Regions from separate parts of the Homo sapiens genome. Here all the other regions are reported to be linked to region 2. The links are microRNA targets in miRTarBase. Many come from high-throughput screens and were not tested one by one. Region 2 holds a microRNA gene; each other region holds the end of a gene's coding sequence.
Evidence for each region. Region 2 holds the annotated microRNA hsa-let-7c-5p (UGAGGUAGUAGGUUGUAUGGUU, at 2,701-2,722, opposite strand). A microRNA usually pairs through its seed, bases 2 to 8, with sites in the 3' UTR of a target mRNA and lowers its output. Matches are read on the target gene's strand: a 7mer-m8 pairs with bases 2 to 8, a 7mer-A1 pairs with bases 2 to 7 and ends in A, and an 8mer does both.

Region 1 (7,121 bases), not on the chromosome of region 2:
GATAGGTTACAGCAGTTCACACCCACAAGGATAAAGCAGTGAGGGCCAGACGTGTTTATCTTCAGGCCAGTTTGGTATCATGTTGAAGGGCATGGGCTTGAGTTTAGGCTCTGCCACTTGCCAAGAAGTTGCTTGACCTCTTTGAGCTTCTATTGCCTCATCTGGAAAATGTCGGGGGAGGCAGGATAGATTAGAGCTTCTGCCTGATTGGAGTGTTGTGTGGATAAAAAGAGGCAATCCATGAACAGCCTTAGTGAAGTGCCATCAAGCATATGTAAAAGTCTAGTGGGAGTTAGATATTTTTATGAATAGTACTACTAATAAAAAGTAAAAGTATCACAAGCAGCGTGCTTTGGAGTCCACAGGAAGGAGTAATTCACTTGGAGTGTCCCTTTACTAGGTAGCTCCCTCAGTTTGCTCCAGGCTGCTCTGTTGGGGGCCTCAGGAAGGAGGATGCAGGTGAAACAGGTGAGGCCCACCCTGTGGGATGCAGTAGAAGAGGCTCGGGCCCGCCGGGCTGGCCTGAGGCCCCTGCGTTTAGGCCTCCTTGAGGACACCCTGACGGACAGTGGGCTAAGCCAGCTGGGAAGGGCACTGCGGGAGCTAGAGGTGAGCAAGGTGAAGCCTGAGGGCACCTGGGCTAGCCATGGCCAGTACCCACCTTGAACCCTTTCTCCATAGGTGGTAAAAGCGTGGAGCCAGCACCCAAGAAGCCAGATGCTCCAAGGAGCAGTCTGCCTTCTTGTCCTCTTTCCAAAGCACTTTGAGGAAGACCTCCATTCATTCATTGACTTATTGATTCCCAAACACTTATTGACCACCCACTGTATGCTGGGCCCAGTGCCACATAGGCCCTGGGAATTCCCTGCCCTCATGGAGTTTATAATCTCCTGGGAGGAAACAATTGCACCACCATAATCGGTGCTCTGAAAGGCTTATAAACACAGAATTCTGTGGGGCATCTAAGTTAGCCTTGGCAAGAGAGGGATGGAAGACTTCATGGAGGAAGTGATTCCTGAAGGAGGTCAACAAAGATGAGTGAAGAACCTGAAGGCAGAGAGAATGACAGGCAAAGACTCAGAGGCAAGAAAGTGCTTGGTCCCCTTGAGGGAGTGCAAGTAGCTCAATTTATTGAAGAACAGAACTTGAGGAAGAGTCAGGAGAGAAGTATTGGAGAGGACAGCAGGGGCCAGGTCACACAGGGCTTTGCAAAACAGAGGTGTTTGGACTTTGTCTTAAAGGTCACAGGTGAGCCACAGAAGTATTTTAAGCAGGAAAGAGCACTGTGCCCTTTTCAGGTGAGCAAACTGAGGCTTAAAGAAAAGATGTGAGGCTGAGCGCGGTGGCTCATGCCTGTAATCCCAGCACTTTGGGAGGCCGAGGTGGGCGGATCACCTGAGGTCAGGAGTTTGAGACCAGCCTGGCCAACATGGAGAAACCCCATCTCTACTAAAAATACAAAAATTAGCCTGGTGTGGTGGCGCACGCTTGTAGTCCCAGCTACTCGGGTGGCTGAGGCAGAAGGATCACTTGAACCTGGGAGGCAGAGGTTGCAGTGAGCCGAGATCACGCCATTGGACTCCAGCCTGGGCAACAAGAGTGAAACTCCATCTCAAAAAAGAAAAGATGTGAGAGGGCTGGGCGCAGTGGCTCACGCCTGTAATCCCAACACTTGGGGAGGCTGAGATGGGCAGATCACCTGAGGCCAGGAGTTCGAGACCAGCCTGGCCAACATGGTGAAACCCCGTCCCTACTAAAAAATACAAAAATTAGCCAGGCATGGTGGCGCATGTCTGTAGTCCCAGCTACTCAGGAGGCTGAGGTGGGAGAGTCACTTGAACCCAGGAGGCGCAGGTTGAAGTGAGCTGAGATTGCACCACTGCACTCCAGCCTGGGTGACACAGCGAGACTCTGTCATAAAAAAGAAAAAGAAAAATAAAAGATGTGAGACCTGTGAGCCTGGGGTCACAGGCATAATCAGGAGCAGCAGAAGTATAATCACACTCAAGTCCTTAGACTCCTAATCTAGTGCTCTTTCATCTCCTTAGGCTGCATGGCCTTTCTGGTCTTCCATGATTTATCACAGGGTGGTTGAAACCCTGTCCCTGTCCAGCCTCTCCTGGCCTTTCTCTTCTTTTTTCATAGTTGCTTAGAACTTGTTTTTACAGCCTTGGGGCTTGGGAATCAGGCATGGTAGCTCCTATTTATTGAGCAAGTGCCTTACTGCCCAGTGCTTTCGGTGCAGTACTTCATTTCATTCTCTCCACAACTTTTATCAGCTCGATTTGATAGAGAAGCACATGGAGACTAGGCCAGTCACCTGCTCGAGGTCATTCAGCTAAGAAGAGGAGGGGCTGGGACCCTGATCTGTCTGATTTCCAAGCCCTGATCTTAACCTACACTGTACTGGGAGGAAAGGTGTGGAACGATCACTTCTAATATCTTCTCAGCAGGTGATAGAGTCACCAGTAAACCAGAGCCCATGCCTCGAGGGAGAGCCCCAAGGTGGGTCTGGGACTTGGGGATGAGCTGGGAGTGGGACGTCTTCCCTGCCTTTGGTGTGATTAATTACATTTTCCTCTAGTGGCAGGAAGAATGGCAACTCTAAGGCGTGGCTCCACCAAAAGAATCCTCTCAGGCACCCTAAGGAATAGGTAATACCTCATGTACCCCAGGAACGACTAGAAGCTGTAGGGGGAGTGAAGAGCTGCAGAGCCCAGCTAATGTGCCCCTGCTTACCCTGCCCCAATATCAGGGAGAAATATGAAGTTTTTGACAAATAAAGGACCTGAAGGTGACTAGACCCCTAAGGCAAGGCCATGGGGAGGGACTGTTTTCCTACTTATTGGATTAAGGGTATAGGATCCTTAGAGGCACTATGGCACCTCCTGGCAGAGCCACTACCTTCCTCTCCCCACCATGGCCTCCTGAGTCTCTGCCCAGGCTACAAGCTCTTCCAGGCTAGTTAGGTCCTGGATGTTGTTCTGGGAGCAGCCCTGGTGATGAGGTTCTATTGGAAAAGTTGGGCTCTGGTCCTAAATCCGTGCACACACATGAACTTCTGACCAAGCCCAGCAGATACCAGATGTGGCCCGGCCGCTCTTCTTGGCCCAGGCCCAGAGGCAGAGACTGAGGGAGCAGCACCAAATTTGGATTCGAGAGAAGCTGAAGCATTTGGAACAGAAGGAGGAGGTGGCAGATGACCAGGTCAAAGGCCTGGTGGCTGAAGAGGAGGTAAGGAGGGTCAAATAGGGGACTTGAGGCTCTAATTGGTCCAGGCACTGTGCTAGGGGCTAGGATCCATCATCAATCACAACCGACCAGTTCATACCCTCTCTCATGGCCCTCACAGCCTTGTCAGGGATAGATGAGGCAATTCTCAGTGCTAAGTGATGGGATGGGGGATCTAGGGTTGTGTGGGACCAAAAAGGCATATCTGACCCAGGCTGGAGTGGATCAGAGGAGATGGAATCTAAGTTGAGCCTCAAAGGACAGGCAGAGATCAGCCAGGGGAATTCACTGGACACTGAGCTTAACAAGGGCAGTTACTGCTCATCAGTAACTGATGGGGGGTGGGTGGAGTGGGGACATGTTCTTAGAGAAGACAAAACAGTATAAGCAAAAGTTCAGAGGGAAGCAATGGCAAAGTGGGTCTGGGAACTGCAAATTCTCCAGTCTGGCTGGAGCTGAACAGGTGCGTAGTCAGAAGCAAGGCTAAAGAGACAAGTGTGTGCCACAGCTCTGGCTTTGGACTTTACCCCAAGGAGAGCTGCAAACCATTGAAAGGCATGTGCCATGTCAGCTCTGACCTTTACTAGCCATGAGAATTTGGGCAAGTTAGGTCACTTCTTTGATCCACTGTTGCCAAATCTGTAAGATGGCAATGCCACATATGGTTGTTATTGGATAAAATAATACACCTGAAGTATTTAGCACAGAGCCTGGCACACAGGTGGCACTCCAAAGAGTATGTGTTATCACTGAAGGCCTGCGAGGAGAGGCAGAGATGGCAGCAGGAACAGATGGTGCTGAGATTCCAGCTGGAGGCCCTTCAGGAAGAGCGGAACACAGCAGAGCAGGACCTGGCAGCCCTCTATGACCTGCATGTGCAGGCCACCCGAGCTCAGACACACCATGTGCTGCCCATCAGTGGGGATGGAGGGTAGGCCTTGAGCTGGCTCCAAGGCTGGCTGAGTGACAGGCATCTCTGAATCTGGGCACAGGTATTCTGAGCCTGGCAGGGCCAGTGGGAGGAGGGGGCCATGACCACAGAGCATCATCACTGCAGCCTGCTGGCGGGCACCCTGGAAGAAACCATCAACCTGGCCACACAGAATCAGGAGCTCCAAGCTGAGAACCAGCAGCTTCAGCAGGGTGCAGACTAGGCTGGGGGTAGTCATGCTGGACCTGTCCTGGGGAGAAACCTTAACAGGAACCCTTTAGAGGAAGTTTCTTGTCTCCTCATTCTGGAGGGTCCTAGAAGGGAGAAAAAGGTGAGACAAAACCAAGCTGATCCTTATTATGGATAATTAATAACACAAACCATGTCTCATTGTTCCAGTCCTTACTAAGTGCCTAATATTATTTTATTTAGCCTCTCCAGCTACCACATATAGTAGGTACCATTTGATCCTTATTTCAGGGATAAGGCAACTAAAGCTAGGAGAGGTTAAATAACTGCCCAAGAACAGTCAGCTAAGTGGAAGATCCAGAATTCAAATTCAAGTCTGTCCATAGTTCTACACTGCACAGTAGTGGCTTACAAGCTTCTGTGTGCATCAGAACCACCTAGGGAGCTTAAGAGAAAGAAGAAAAAGATTCCCAAACACTACTCCCTAAGATTCTGCTTTAATAGGTCTAAGATAGGCCTAGGGCCCCCCCCCAACCCCCTTGGTTTTTTTTAGAAACTCACCACATATTCTATCATAGAATCAGGGCCTGACATTCCCCTGGCCATGATTTTAAGACAGATGACAGGCAGAAATTGTAAGGGAACCAGAGGAAATGAAAACCGAAACCACATCGGCTTTCTTAAGAGTTTTTTGGCCTAGAGTCTAGTTTGTCCTGCTCGGCCCAGCACCTGCTGTTCCCAAGACTCTCTCCGCATTCCCCTGGGCCCAAGTTTTGTGCTCCAGGGAAATTTCAAAAGCTCTATGACAGGGAAATGTCTCAGTTCCATGGAACTCTCACAGGAAATAATGCCACTGGCAACAGCTTGGAGAAAACAATTTTTTCTTAGTCTAAAAGTTATCCCAGAATTAAGATACTCAGGACCCCAGAGGAACAAAATTGTTTGAGGGGAGTTGCGCAGACAGAAGACACAAGACAATCATGGCTGTGGTTGTAGGAACCACCCTACAGCCTAGAAGACTTTATTAAGATCTTATTGCTTATGCAGTTAAAGAGACACTGATTGAGCTACAGGTTTCCTGTACCTGGTCTCAGGTCACTCTGTGCAGAGCTTCCCCAGGCTGTTGGGAGCTGGGAGACTGCTAGGCAGGGGCAGGCCCCAGAGTGGGAAGCATGGTACCTCCTAGGAGCCTCAGAGTGGGTAGCGGGCTTCAAGACAGCCCTCAGGGTGAACAGAGAGGTCAGGAGTGTCGGCTTAAGCCAGGGCCCAGGGGCTACATTCCCTGAGATGAGTCAAGCCCAGCCCTCTCTGGGGTTTCCAGAACAAAGGCTAGGTGTGGGGAGCAGCACTGTGGAGAGGGCAGGGAGCATGTCTCTAGGCATTGCTGGAACTGGAGGAGACTGTCAGAGTGGTTTGGGTAATGGTTGTATAATCTGTGGCAACTGGGCCTTCTTGCATGAAAGTGGAAGGGTGAGGATCCCTTATGGAAGAGTCATGCACCATGGCTGGGCTGGACTAGCCAGCTCCAGTGGCTCTGCTGGGTGACTAAAGTAGGCAAGGAAAGCCACTTGTTGCCCACACCCCACTTTCATCAACTCTGTTCATGCAGGACAAAGCAGGGAGCTGCCCAACAAGGATGGGGTTATTTCTCAGGCCTAGGTATTGATGTTACCTTAATTCTTTAGTCTGGAAGAACTTGGTTGGGGGTGGGGGATGGTAAGCATTTCCTTAACCAAACCCACACTTCACATCTCCTAGGGGTACCCCTTCATCCACCAACCTCCAGAGAATAACCTGGCTGCCCTCACTTCTCCAGCTTTTCTCACAAGGCACTTGTTACAGGGCTGCTGATGGGAGAGGGAGGAAGGCCTGGGAGGGGGATCTGGTGGTGGCGCCCAATCTACAGGGTCCGGAATCAGGGTGGAAGTTGTCAGGGACTAGCGGCTGCCATAGTACAGGCGCATGGCCAGGCCAATGAGCAATGTGGCCAGGAAGAAGGCGGCTGTGAGCTGCAGCCGTAGCAGGACTGCTGAGAGCACGGCGTTGACCACCAGCGAGCAGGACACCACAAAGAGGCGTGTGATGCTGCTGCCATGCTTCATGACAGCAGACATGAGCAGTCCATTTAGTGCCTGGCTCAGCACCACGAGTGCTGCCCATCCTGAGAAACCTTCCAGGAGGCCTGGGCCAGAGCCGCCGCCAGCATGCAGACCTAGATTCAGAAGCACACCAAAAGTGTAGAGGAAGAGGTTCTGAAGTGCCAGGGGCAGCCGCTGTCGCTTCATGAGCAGCTCTGTGTACACTGACGACAAGCCTGAGATGAGGCAGTACAGAATGAGGAGCAGCAGGCCTAGCGGAGTGATATGCAGGGGCATGGGGCTGGCAGCAGCTGCTGGAGGGGGACTGGGAAGGGTGTTCCCGGGAACTTGAAGGCCCCCTGCTGCATAGCAGGCTCCCGCAGCCATCAGCAGCAGCAGCGCTAACCCCTGACGCACAGAGAGGCGGTGCCGGAGGCAGAGGCAGTAGAGCACAGCTGTGCTTCCAATCTTGAGATTACTCAGCACCTGGTAGGTGCTGGGGTCCATGTAACGCTGAAGATAGATCACCAGGTTGTTGTTAGCGCCATAGAGCAGGGCTGATAGTGCGAAGGGAGCAGCCTGGCGCCAGGGTGGGGGCCCCTGGGGCCATGCTTGCCAGCCTACCAGAAGGGAGAAGGCGCATAACAGTAGCTTGGTCAGCTCAGTCAGCAGCACGGCTGAGGAGGGCCGGA
Region 2 (7,121 bases):
TATTTATAAACCTGTAGCAAGTTACATAGCCCTCATACCTGGAGTAGCAAAATTTATTATGAATCAAAGGCAAACATACAATTCTTCCACGTAGTGTTCTTGTCCTACAGAGAAGTTTTAAAAATTTTCTTCATTGGTACTAACTATATCCTCCACCTTGCAGGTTTTTTTCTGTCTTATTGTTTTGTTTGTTTTGTGTTGTTGAGAACGGAGTCTCATTCTGTCGCCCAGGCTGCAGTGCAATGGCATGATCTAGGCTCACTGCAACCTCCGCTTCCCGAGTTCAAGTTATTCTCCTGCCCCAGCCTCCCAAGTAGCTGCGATTACAGGTGTGTGCCACCATGCCCAGTTAATTTTGTATTTTTAGTAGAGATGGGGTTTCACCATTTTGGTCAGGCTGATCTCGAACTCCTGACCTCAAGTGATCCACCTGCCTCAGACTCCCAAAGTGCTGGGATTACAGGCATGAGCCACCACACCTGGTCAGATTTTTTCTTATGATTTCTACATAACTAACATAATGAATCATAGAGACATCTTCACCATTCTTCAATTATTCTTCTATTATACTCATTCACTTTAGGTGATAGTATATAAAAGAGGCTGTAATTCTAACAATTCATTATAGTACTTTTGTAAGATTATCCTTAAACTGCACATCTTACTTGACCTCTGTGAGGCACTTAACTCCATTACACTGTAAGGAAATAGACATTTATTGGCAATCATATTCTATTTGGCCCATCAATAGATTTGGCTTCTAAATAAATACACCTAGTATTGGGAGATACATACATAGAAACACATAGGAAAGGGATCCTAGGCTCTCAAGGAAAAAACTATTTATAAAGATACAATTGTTTACCCATTTAGTTGTCCCTTTCTTTCATCCGTGGGTTGAACTGCCATCATTAGACACAATGGTGTTCCTATTTGCTATGAGTCACTTTCCTTTTCATCTCTTCATGTCTTTTTGTTTGTTTGTTTTAGGTCTATGTCTACTGCCTCTTATTCATTGCTTCTTGATTAGTCCTTGCAAATATTTTTCTTTCACAGAGAGAAAGAGTCTTTACTACTGTAGACCAATCAAATTATTTTGCTTGAAGTGACTGGTATTCACTTTCTAAGGCTCACATGTTCTACGTGTTGGGGGTAGCCATTCCTTCTTCACTACATTGTTAGCAAGTTCTAGGTATTAAGATATTTTGGATGCCTGAGCATTCTAGAAAGGTCAGCACCACATAGCCAGTATCTTGAGGTCCTTAATATATATTTGCATCTAAACGTCTCTTTAATGAATTCCATGTTTCATATTTGGAGTCTTAAATTAAAGTTCTAACATCAACAACTACTTAATCCTGTGTCTGAAAGATGATCTATGTAAGATAGCCTCACTACACAAATTACACCACTAACAGCTGCTAAAGTTGACAGCAAACTAAGGTTCCAAAGAGTCCCATTTGCTTTGTAACACAAAGAATATTATAAAGTGCCTTTCCTTTAAACAAAAATGTGTTCACATTCTCAAATTATACTTTATATACATATTTATTATTAATTTATTGACATGTTTCTGGTTTAGTTGCTTCTGGTTTATTCAACAGATATAGCTGTACAAAAATAAAGGGCAGGAGACGAGGGAAATACACAAAAGACACAAATCTAATTTTTAAAAATCATATTGTTAAATGAGACTTAAAATAGAATATTTAGTTGAAATTGATGCTAAAAGAAAAACGATTCATCTGGAAAGAAAGGTATTTAAATTCAACAGAAATATGAATTATCTAAGTGTAGGATCATAAACTGTCATGAACTAATTAGTAAAAATGAATTTACTCTATTATTTTTATTCTAGATAAAAAGTACTTCTAAATTTTAACTTATCTGTTTAGAATGAATGAACACATTCAACACAGTCAAAAATCGACACATGTATTACTGATGCGGAGCAGTCCAGGAATTAAATTTAAACAGTTTTAGGAGCAATAAATAAAACTCAGATGTTTGACCACTGCCATAACTCATTCAAATATTCAATAGAAACTCATCACAGAGTGAGGTCTTACACTCCATTCACTAATCCAATAAATAGTTAGTGCTCATTATGAGTAAGGCATTGGAGGGGATACAGTGAAAAATAAAACATGGACTTTGCCCTCAAGGGGCTTACAGTCTAGTGCGGAAAAAATCAGCAAGCACATAAATAGCCATAACATAAGGTAGAAAGTGATGTGTCATAAGGAAAACGCAAATAATGTGCTATGGGAGCTATTAACTCTAGCAGACATTTTTTATTATAGTGTCTAAGCAGCCAATATAAATAGACCAATGATCCATTTGAAAATTAAGGTCTGAATTTTGTTAATCTATAGATGATAAAAAGCTTTAATATTAATGCAATTTAAGTCACTACCTACAATTTTCTTAAAATGTTTGAACATGGAGTGACAACCCATTAGAAATACCATTTTGACATTGTTCATAAGCAGATACAAATGGAATAATCTAATAGGGCTGAAATGATCATTTTAATGTAATAAAGGCCCAAATCAATGATCCAAGATACTCATGACACATTACCTTCTTGCACACAAATTGGCTCAATCAGGTTAAAGTGATGAAGAATTCCTCGACGGCTCAAGTGTGCTCCAAGGAAAGCTAGAAGGTTGTACAGTTAACTCCCAGGGTGTAACTCTAAACCATACAACCTACTACCTCAACCCGGATGCACACAGCTTCCAATGTTGCTTCAAACTCCTTATCATATCTTCAGTCAGCTCCTCCAAATATGGCAGCCATACACCTAAGGGCTTGGCAAGGATATAGATATAATATTCTAACATTTTACCAGTAAACTTTGCTGCTAACTGTTTCTCATAGGACTAACCTAAACACTTGGGTTTCCAGCATAGGTCACGTAAAATGTCTTCTGACCATCTAACCTGCCATAGTTCTAGTCGCAATTAATAGTAAAAGTCAATTGCATTCAGCCTCATTTTTTCAGGAGAAATAGGCTCAATAAAAACATATAAATCCAATGGTAGTCTTTAATTTTCTTACTGAAGTTGAAGAGGTACACTAAGCACTACAGTATGCACTGAAGTTTCTGAACAGAATCTATTCAGATCCTGGTCCAAACCCTGCTATAAAGGTTCAACTTTCTTATGCAATTTACTGTACATGGAATCGAACTTGAATGGGTGTGATATAAACGCTTCCAAGTTGTTGAGAATTGAAGCCTGCCTTGTAAGACAGACAATGATTAAAATAAACATTAAAAACAAAGGAAAATATAATGACTTCAAAAGTATATAATCAACTGGAGTTTAACAGGATTTTACTGAACTATTGTTGAACGGCACTGTGTATAGCATTTTGTCAGATTACCACACTGACACAGACCCATAGAAGCGAGCTTGTGCGGTCCACTTCACCACAAGATCGGATCTACGGGTTTATGCCAATGGGCAACATCTTGCATGGGCCCCCTATTAATATAGAATTTGTTGTAAATATCTGATGCAATTAAGAGTCAAAAATAATATTGATCCTTTAGTATAAATGTTTTAAATGCTGAGTTCTAAGGATGCATATTCTCCATTAAAGGCCTTCATAAATATTCAAAACTAAATACAAATTTATATGCATGAGAATTTAAAAAGTAGTTTATTGAAAAATTTTTCACGAACTGCTTTTGTTTCAATAGTAAATATTTTGGAATTAAACTATTCTAATTGAGTTTTAAAAGAAAAAAGAATCCATACATGCATGTATGAATTATATAATTGTGAGGCATGAATGTAGTATTACGAGCCTATAATTAAAACCAAATTAACTATTAAGTTAATTGTGTATGAGTTAGACCGTGCTTATTTTAATTTTTATAAAACTAGTTTAGTTACTGGTTTCAAGGAATTGGTAACATTATAACTTTCTCATAAAACAGTAAGATCTTGTTCACTAGCTAGAGAATACAGGAAGTTATTATCAGCCTTAAATATATACATCTGTGTCTATAGTCGGAATGGTGCTAAAATTTACAATATTTGGATGAGTTAATATAAAACTAAACTAAATGGCACGATAATGGCATGATTACTAATACTCCACACTAACATTTATACTCCAGATGTATTACATGACATAGGATATCTTCTTTCCTAAATAAAATATATTTAAACTTATTGTTCAAAAAAGATACACTTAAAATGCATGGCTACATACAACTCTCATCTGGTCAACAGGTTGGGCAAAAATAAAATATTACTAAAAAATGTTTTAAACCACCAGACAACAAGCAAACACACAAACGAGTAAACATAAAGCCAGCCACATACACGTTTTTTTAAGATTGTAAACTCAACTGCAACAAAATGATAAGTTGTACAATCATTAATCATTTCACATCTATAATCACTTAGCATTTCCTAATTATATCTTTATTGTGTAAAATAATACTACATACTAATTGCTTAGTGATTTTGCATATTTTGAAATAAATACGTTTTATAGCCTTTATATAGATCATGTGTTCTACATAATTTTAAACCATTATTTATTCTTAAATTGTCCTCATAATTATTAAAAACTATAGTAAATAATCAACAATCATACATTCAGTTGTAGTAAAAATATTTCAACATATATTTATAAATGCAAATGTGAAATAAGAGGCAGCATTGGGTTTAGTTTTACCATAACTATAAGAAAGCATGTTTTGGTTTCATTGTCTTATCAGGTCATGTAAAAAAGATGAAAAAGCATGACCTTATTCCCCTCCTCCTGATTTCACTTCCTTTTATATGGTACAACAAATAAGAAAATATAATTTTTTTCTTTTCCTATAAAGCTTTCTAGTAAACCGTATTGCACCTATCTTAAGCGTATGGATACACAGACATATATTCAATGGGACACAAACTGCCCAATTGACCACAAGAAATTTTTCACAAAGGTAGGTCATAGCACACATTTTCAAATGAAAACCATCAATAAAATTTCAACAGTTACACTCATAAAGAATATGAAATTAATTCTTATAACAAAACACAGTCAAAAGAATGTTGTTTTTCTTTAAAAACAGTAAATCTTATTTGCTCTTTGTTTTTTATTTTTACCTGAAATGGTTTTCTCCTATGATCACTTTCTTCACTTTTCATATCCATTTTAAGTTTTTCCCTAAAACAACCACAAAAGGAGAAATATCAGACAACTGCTGTCTAGGAGGAGCATCTGAGTGGATCGTGGGAATGAGGGTAGACGATCGAGAAGAAAACACGATATCAAAATGGGCAAAACCTTTTAAAGTATTTTTTTTTTAAAGCCTTGGAAGACTCACAGGGCCCCACCCAGGCTACTCATATGACATATAAAGTGGTTTCATAGTTTGCATTTATGCGTTCATTTTGGTTCGTGTTGTTTTCACAGTAACAGTTTTGAAAGTGAAAGGACGATGGCTGTTAAAGAAGCGACTAGGTTTTGCACAATGAAGTAGCGAAAGCTGAAAAGAGATTTGGATTTGGCATGGAGCTTAATAAGATAATTAAGAGTGTAGAGATTAATGGCTGCTAAAAATAACATTTAAAATAATGTTTTTAAACGGATCTTGAAACATGGAAACAGGTTTATCAATATTAATTAAGCCAGTGAAAGTTGGTGTACCATTAGCTGAGGCAGCATGGAGGTACAAGAGCTATTTTGTAAATAATTAGTGAACAATAACCAACAGAACGTTTTATTTGAATGTTATCAGTATATAGGGATTTTGCAATTTCCTGTAATTGTTCATAGAATAGCAAACACAAAGGCAGAATTAATCAGTTCTACATTTTTCATTGTTTACCCTACATATTTGTAATATAAGAAAATATGATTTTAAAAGCATAACAGATTACCAAAGTATATTTTTACCGAAATATTATAACGTCAATTCTTAGTATGCAAATTATAGTTTTCATTGATACTTGCTGAATTTTTCAAAAGCATTCTCTTTTAAAAATTATTTTTACACTTGTTTAGAAACATTTTTTATCAAAACTAAAATAGCTGGAATGCATCTGCTAATCCTTTCACACTGAACCAGGCAAAACTGTTTTTTTAATAAAATGCTTAAATTGCTTAGCAATTTACTTCTACAAACAGACAAAATAATTATAATGCAATGCAGTTATCTGCTGAGCCAATACATTGCTCTGAACTTAAAACAAGTTTGCATGTACTTTTTCTAATACACTTGATATTTCCAATGCTTTTTGCAACTGCTCTAGGACAAGTACTTCTTTTAAAATGTATTTTAAAAGAGCATATTATTATGAAAGAAGCTTCTTTTCTACCTAGCAACTGAGAACATGCTCTTCTCATTCCTATTTTTGTTCTACTGAAATCTTTGTAAATAATTTGAATATAACTTCCCCAAAAGCAATCTTATTTATCAGTCATTCAACGCATATTCTAATATAACCCTTTTCTACAAGTTTAAAAAGTTTCTTCTTTCACATTTCAAATTATAAGTCACATGAAAGATTTACTTTTTTTACCCACTAGGTCTAAACATTCACTTTTCTTAGATAGCAAAAACTAATACTGGACACAAAAAGCACAGATATATTAATATCTTTCCAAAACTTCTGTGTATACCCCACATAAAAACATGTATTGTCTTTTTCATAGAGATTTTTCTATCTTTCCTTAAGTTTCTATTTTAATCAAGATTAGAGCAAGAGAGGAAAAGGAAAAAGTTAATAAGAGTAAAGTGGGCAATGAGTTAAATAAAAGTAAATTAAAAGTTCAAGGATTCCCTTTTATATAACAGTAGCCTTTAAAAGAAAAACAACAAAAAAAGTTATACCTGATATGAAAGGTGCGATTTCACCAAGTGCAATATATTGCTAATTATGCCATATGGTTTGAAATAATAAAAATAAAGAAGGCTCATTTGGTTATGTTGCCTTAAAAAGCTGATTTACAAAGCCCGATGTCTCTGTAGTTATACAGCCAATGTTTGCTTTTTTTGGTTTGTTTTGGTTTGGATTTTTGTTTGTTTGCTTTTGTTTTTGTTTTTGAGCAGGAGCGTCTCTTTTTTTTTTTTTTTTTTTTTTTTTTTCCAGCACTCTTGCATG
Region 3 (7,121 bases), not on the chromosome of region 2:
CCATCACACCAGAAATATGTTTACTGAAGACTTACTGGCTTAAGTAATAGAATAACAGCTGTTATTATTAGAATACTTCAAAAATCAGACTAAAGAAAGGACTGGGCCTTTCAACGTCGCATCCATGATGGTTTATTGACCACTACCTTGCTAGATTGTACTGGTTACTGAACGCCAGCAGGATAAAAGGGTGTCTGTAGTTCTTTTACCAGTACCCTTGCTACACCTCCTTACCTCTTAATACAGTCTGCACTTCCATATGGTCGTTTACAGTTGTAAATTATTTCAAATCTTAAATCAAAATTCCTCTACATGCATTTGCCTGCAGGATTTGCTCTTACTGGTTTTGGCCTATGGAACCAAGTTTGAATTTTTTTTTTTAATTGGCTGGGTGCGGTGGCTCATGCCTGTAATCCCAACACTTTGGAGACCGAGGCGGGCGGATCACGAGGTCAGGAGATCAAGACCATCCTGGCCAACACGATGAAACCCGTCTCTAATAAAAATACAAAAATTAGTTGGGTGTGGTGATGCACGCCTGTAGTCCCGGGTACTTAGGAGGCTGAGACAGGAGAATCGCTTGAACCCGGGAAGCGGAGGTTGCAGTGAGCCAAGATCGTGCCACTATACTCCAGCCTGGCGACAAGAGTGAGACTCCGTCTCAAAATAAATAAATAAATAAATAAATAAATAATTTAATTAGCTGAGCATGGTGGCATGTGCCTGTGGTCCCAGCTACTCAGGAGGCTGGGGCAGAAGAATCCCCTGAGCCCAGGGGGTCAAGGCTACAGCAAGCCACAATGGCACCACTACACTCCAGCCCGTGACAGAGTAACCCAGTCTCAAAAAATACAAATAAGTGTCTTGTGCCTATTCCAGACCCACTGAATCAGAATCTGCATTTTAACAAGAACCTCCTCCTCTCATTCATTTGCACGTTAAAGGCTGAGAAGCCCTGCTGTGGAGACTGGTTCCAACTGCAGCAGGTCATGATCAGGTGAGTGTGTTGCAGTTTAGTAAAGCATTAAATTGTAGGAAGAATGTTTTTGGTATTTTAAGGCAATCCAACATTATTCCTATAAATGTTAGACATTGTTATAATGTTACTGACTTGCATGTATACTTTTCTGAAAGTAAAAGCTATACCTAACACAGGAAATTCAATGTGTCCTGTAGGCCATCGAGTGTCCTTAATGGTGATGTCAAGGAAAAGCTGTTGGATGTCTTGCCTTTGCCTGCCTCAGGCTTTAACACAGGATGTCTTGTCTGCAGGGCACTTTTTCTGCCATTCAGATCTCAATTCAAATGACCTTTCCATGGCCACACTAGCCCAGGCCCCCTATCGAAAGCAGTCACCAGTTTTATGAAGGGCCACAACTGCCTTATTAGGATATTTCATATTAGGCTACTGGCAAAACAAAACAAAATCTCCCAAATCTCAATTTATCTCTTGTTTATACAAAATCTGATTTTGGGGGTGGGAGCTCTCCCTCTATCCATGACACAGAGATCCAGGATCCCTCCTGTCTTGTGACTCTGCCACTTTAACACATGGCTTCCAATACCTCCATGAAACAGAGACGATGACAAGGAGGGCACACGGCACATGACGTGAGTTAGCCATGCAGCACCAACCAAACTGCAAAGGGCCTGGGAAGTGGAAGGGACCAAGTGGGCTAGTTTGATGAGCACTTCTGCAAACTGTGTTCTGCTCACAGCATCTCTAGCACTAGTACAGTGCCTGTATGCACAAGGACTCAAATATCTGTAAAATATGTGGATACCTTCATTTTACTAAAAAGGTCATCCATTAACAGTTTTAGGCCGAGCGTGGTGGTGCCTGTAATCTCAGCACTTTGGAAGGCAAATCACCTGAGGTCAGGAGTTCCAGGCTGAGGTCAGGAGTTCCAGACTGGCCTGGCCAACATGGCGATATCCCGCTTCTTCTAAAAATACAAAAATTAGCCAGGCGTCATGGTTGGCGCCTGTAATCTGAGCTACTTGACAAGCTGAGGCAGAATAGCTTGAACCCAGGAGGCATAGGTTGCAGTGAGCCGAGATTGTGCCACGGCACTCCAGCCTGGGTGACAGAGCAAGACTCTGTCTCAGGAAAAAAAAAAAAAAATGGGGAAACCCCGTCTCTACTAAAAATACAAAAATTAGCCAGGCGTGGTGGCGTGCGCTTGTAGTCCCAGCTACTTAGGAGGCTAAGGCAGGAGAATCGCTTGAACCCAGGAAGCAGAGGTTGCAGTGAGTCGAAACTGCGCCACTGCACTCCAGCTGGGGTGATTGGAGCAAAATCCCACAAAAAAAGCTCATCACTAGAACCTAAAAAATGCTTTTATTTGCTCAGGTACTGTGTGGTGTTATTTCTTCTATACACTGATGAGGGGCTGAGATAAAGACCTAGTGAACTAAACAAAGTGCCCAGGCTAGTTCTGGGGAAGTAAGATCTGAGGCATATTCTATTATCAGCAATGGATCTCTTCCTGTCATTCAATACAAAGGAATAAGCGCTGTCTTAAGACAATTTGCAACAGAGCACTTCCTTTATCAACACTGTAAACTTGTTTAAAGGTTTGTGAAATAAGTCCTGGACACTGAAAAGTAATAAAATACGGCCACTGCATGAGAGTGAGTTTGTATTAACCACTTCAGATGAACAAGTATGTTTTTAAAAATTATTTCTCAGCCGGGCGAGGTGGCTCATGCCTGTAATCACAGCACTTTGGGAGGCTGAGGCAGGCGGATCATGAGGTCAGGAGATGGAGACCACCCTGGCCAACATGGTGAAACCCCATCTCTACTAAAAATACAAAAAAAGTAGCTAGGCATGGTGGCATGCACTTGTAGCCCAGCTACTCAGGAGGCTGAGGCAGGAGAATCACTTGAATCCGGGAGGCAGAGGTTGCAGTGAGCCAAGATCGCGCCACTGCACTCCAGCCTGTTGACAGAGCAAGACTCCGTCTCCAAAAAAAAAACAAAACACAAAACAAAAAAAAGGATTTTGCTTAATTTTCCTTATAAAATGACAGCTTAAACAAGATTTCAAGACAGGGCAGGCTGTTTGGCTCAGTGGCTTCTCACCCCAAAGGTTTATGGGTTGCTCATATTCCATGTCCCTCATGGGTTAACTAAGTGTACCAGCATGGTGACCCAGGCTGGTAGAACAGCCACTTTGCAAAATTTACCAATTGCCTGGAAAGAGGATCACGTATGGGATCTTAAACTTTCATCTGGCAATGACACTTCTCACATTTCAGCCTAGGTAAGTCAGCTGGGCCTTGCAATTGAACCACGAAGCCACAAAGCAGGGTTGGAAATCTGTTGCCAGTACTATGACTACCATTTCAATATCTACCTTTATCAATATCAAGCCTCTTTCTCCTCCTTTATCAACTACCTTTATTAATATCAAGCCCCTTCTCTCCCCCAAATCACTGGCATGATGTGAAATCACTTATTGTGTACAGTGGCAGGGAAGAGGCTGAAATTGTAGTTTTGTGCAAATGAGAAGGTGAGACGTTCCACCCATCAATGTTTACACCTCAGCTTCTTTTGCAACAGGCAATTAACACTTGGGGAAAGAAGAGAACTCGCTCTCAATGCAGCCATTGAGGGTAGCAATCCACATTACAGACTACTCGGACTAGTACAGAAGCTTCCACTGCCTTTTCCAAGATACAAAAGAGTTGCTCTAAACATACACTTCTCTCCATCCCAGAAGTGACCAACTGCCACTCCCTGGACCTTGCTATCCCCCTCTCCCTGTTGCAGATTCAGATATGCAAACGATGCTTCTTCCTACTTTCCAGAATTGCTCAAGGCTCTCTCCACCTCCTAGCTCCAGCACTCCCAACCCATTCTCAGGCTCTTCCCCATCCCTCTGCATGTCCCCAGCATAGCCTGACTGGTACACCTGAGGGTGGACTTAACTCCCCTGGGAGTTAGCTGCTGGGCTACAAGCTTACAGAAACAGACCAGACTACTCAGTGGATCCCCAGTTGTTATCATGACCACAGTATAAGCCCACTCAGAAATGATTCCTAGATGTTTAAACATTTTCCGATAGCATTTTTTGAGTTGGAGTCTTGCTCTTTCGCCCAGGCTAGAGTGCAGTGGCGAGATCTTGGCTCACGCCACTCTCCTGCCTCAGCCTCCCGAGTAGCTGGGACTGCAGGGGCCCGCCACCATGCCCAGCTAATTTTTTGTATTTTTGGTAGAGACAGGGTTTCACCATGTTAGCCAGGATGGTCTCGATCTCCTGACCTCGTGATCCGCCCGCCTCGGCCTCCCAAAGTGCTGGGATTACAGGCGTGAGCCACCGTGCCCGGCCCCCATAGCACAAATTCTTTATTTTTTTCACTCTATTGCCCAGGCTGGAGTGCAATGGCATGATCTCAGCTCACTGCAACTTCCACCTCCCACGTTCAAGTGATTTTCCTGCCTCTGTAATCCCAAAGTGCTGGGATTACAGGCGTGAGCCACCGCACCCAGCCATAAATTCTTAACATAAATACTAAAATCGAGGAGCAGTTATTTTTACAAGTGTGGAAAAAAGGTCACCTGAAGGTCTTCCATGGGAGTAGCAGAATGGTTCTTACTCACAAAAAATTCACAATAATGAAAACTCCTTAAAAATTCACGAAATAATTATGCAGAACAATAAGCTTTCAAAATACAATTATATTATGACCTTCCCCCGTTATCTAAGGGCATGAAGCAAGTTCAACCGCAAGTGCATGGTAGCAGAAAACTGCCAGTGCCTTTTGCTCAACAGGTGGCCCAGCGTTAGTCTTGAACATTTTCAAGTATAGGATTGTTTGATGACCCCGGCTAGTTAAGGTTTCCCTTTCTCTCTCACACACATTTCTCAAAGTACCTATCCTCCCGAATATCCGACAAGGGACCGATCGAAGAGTCAGTGAAAGAAAAACATCATTATTCTTTGACATCGGCACATTTCAAAAACAGCTCATTACACAGAACAGCCAACTTTTTTTTTAATTGTTTTATTTGGGAAAAGTGCTTCTTACAAAAGGGCAGCTGCAAAATACAGAGACCTCTGCAACAATTATTTGTTTTTTCTTAAAGTGAAAGAATGGGTGGGATCCAAGGAATCAAAGCAGTAGATGGACAAACCAGGAGCATCCCCGAGTTATTTTCAGGAAACAGAGCAACAAAACACAAAGGTACAATTTCCAATCAAGGAATTCTTCCAACAACTTAACTTTAGCTAATCTCAGGGATTCCCAAGCCCTCCCTTTCGGTGGAAAAGTATGACTTATCACTGCAAACCCATTACTCCACTACAATAAACACCTTAGAACAGAGTTTTGAATCACGTCTGTCTACCTGAAAGCTCAGGGGTGGAATGAGGCAAATACCCACAAAAACAAACACAAAAACCCGACAACAAAATGCCTCAAGTGAGGACAAAGGTTTCTCAGAAAGTGCCTGTACTGGAAAGGCTAGATCGTAAAACATTAAATACAACTGTGTATCCAAGACCCAGTTTGTGTTATTATATGGGATAACCAGGTAGTTTTAACCTCTATGGCTAACCCCATTTCTCTATTTATATAGACAGAGCTAGCACTGCTATATTGACAACTACCAATATACTGCTTTGCCCTTTAAGATCTATCTGCCACACAAGGCTTAAACCACTAAACCAGGTTTTTCTACTAAGGCTAAGAATACTGCATCTATGCAGGGATGAGAAGCTTATCACACACCCACACACTCACACCATGTCAGCCCTTGGGAGCCAACTTCCAACTCTGCATTGATGTTATGCCTCTCTATCTTTTATACGTATTCTTTCTCAATTTTCCTATCATGCAAAACAGTAAAAAATCTCAACACATTCACACCTGATTCTGGTTACCCAGTAGTATTACTTGTGTGCAATTAAACAAGAGACCAAAACCACAGAACAAGTGCACGTGGTAGGGATTACAGGGTAGGGAACAGATATAAAAACACAGATGTGCAGATTTCACCAGAAACCTCAAGGATCCACATCCCATGTCTGGGGCAGAGGGCTATTGGCCAGCTTAGGTCCCTTCACCCATCACTCCTATTCTTGGACCCCAAAGCAGGGCCACTGCTTTTACTTTTGAACCTGGGGTCCTCAAAATGAGTGTGTGAAAAGTCCATAAATGCAATCTGGTTGAAAACAGATGACGCAACACACCTACACTAACTGTCTGACAGTTAAATTCGTGTTACAAAAAACTAACTTTAAGATTTATTTTTGTAACTTTTTTCAACAGGGAAAACAACACACTCCTCAGGGAAAGGTGAGGGGTTGAGAAGACAGGCCCTGGGTAAAAATTCTTAGGACAGCACCTGGAGTTGAGAGGCCTGCCTAGGAGAGAACACAGGCACTGCCACACCACCACAGGGGACAGCTGCTGTCTGAGGTCAGCAGACCAGTTCACACGCCACGCAAGGTTGCTATAGATCCAAGTCATAAAAATCTTCCAGCTCATCATGAAACAAGTCCCACTCATCTTCAGAGTCTGTTAGTTCGTCGTCCCCACCTGCAGCCAAAAGCATAAGCAACATCTCGCCCAGCTCAAAGGTGACAACCTCTTCTTCATCGTTGTCAAAGGGGTTGCTGTTCTCTCTTTCCTCAATGAGTTCCCAGAAGTGGTTCCTTCGTTGGGCCTGTAAAAAACAAGGCCATGATAGGGATGGCACTGTCGAGCAGTATCTTCTATCCTGTTGTTTATAAGGCAAAACGTCCAGCACACCAGAGGGCATGACGAACCAGACTTCTTAGTTAGGGTTTCCATTTACCACTTCCTCCCCTCTGGTTACTTCATGGAAATCGTTTAGGCTAGAGCTTTAACACACATTTTTTCTTCCTTTCCTATCCCTCCCAGTTTTCTGAGGTTTGTTTCCTCCTTTAATACTCTACACTTTCGCTCCCAGACCTGAGCGTTAACCTTCTCCTTCCCCTACCCCAATATGTGCAGGACTCAACTGATACCTTGGAATTTCCCCTCCTTTAAAAAAACAGTGAGAGTTACCCGGTATCTGCTTGATGTTCCCACTTTCTGTCTCTGTGGCTCCTCTCTACGGCCATCAGGGTACGCATGCTTGTAAAAACA

Region 1: miRTarBase lists SLC35A4 as a target of hsa-let-7c-5p. The part of its 3' UTR that is shown has no 7-base or 8-base seed match.
Region 3: miRTarBase lists MKRN1 as a target of hsa-let-7c-5p. The part of its 3' UTR that is shown has no 7-base or 8-base seed match.

Annotation. Positions count from the first base shown.
Region 1 is chr5:140,567,312-140,574,432 of GRCh38, reverse strand. It overlaps SLC35A4 (solute carrier family 35 member A4), which reads right to left. Exons shown (of 3, transcript NM_080670.4): 3 at 5,333-7,121. The coding sequence ends at 6,289. It overlaps LOC131768270 (SLC35A4 upstream open reading frame protein), which reads right to left. Exons shown (of 3, transcript NM_001394034.2): 3 at 5,333-7,121. Among named protein-coding and RNA genes, the nearest start is that of SLC35A4, 6.0 kb to the right of the region's middle. RefSeq lists enhancers at 3,698-4,197, 4,198-4,699, 4,731-5,130.
Region 2 is chr21:16,535,439-16,542,559 of GRCh38, reverse strand. It overlaps MIRLET7C (microRNA let-7c), which reads right to left and starts at 2,732; the gene lies at 2,649-2,732. The region is part of intron 6 of MIR99AHG (mir-99a-let-7c cluster host gene); the gene reads right to left. MIR99A (microRNA 99a) reads right to left here and starts at 3,471; the gene lies at 3,391-3,471.
Region 3 is chr7:140,448,055-140,455,175 of GRCh38, forward strand. It overlaps MKRN1 (makorin ring finger protein 1), which reads right to left. Exons shown (of 8, transcript NM_013446.4): 7 at 7,041-7,121; 8 at 4,979-6,675. The coding sequence ends at 6,463. Among named protein-coding and RNA genes, the nearest start is that of MKRN1, 28 kb to the right of the region's middle.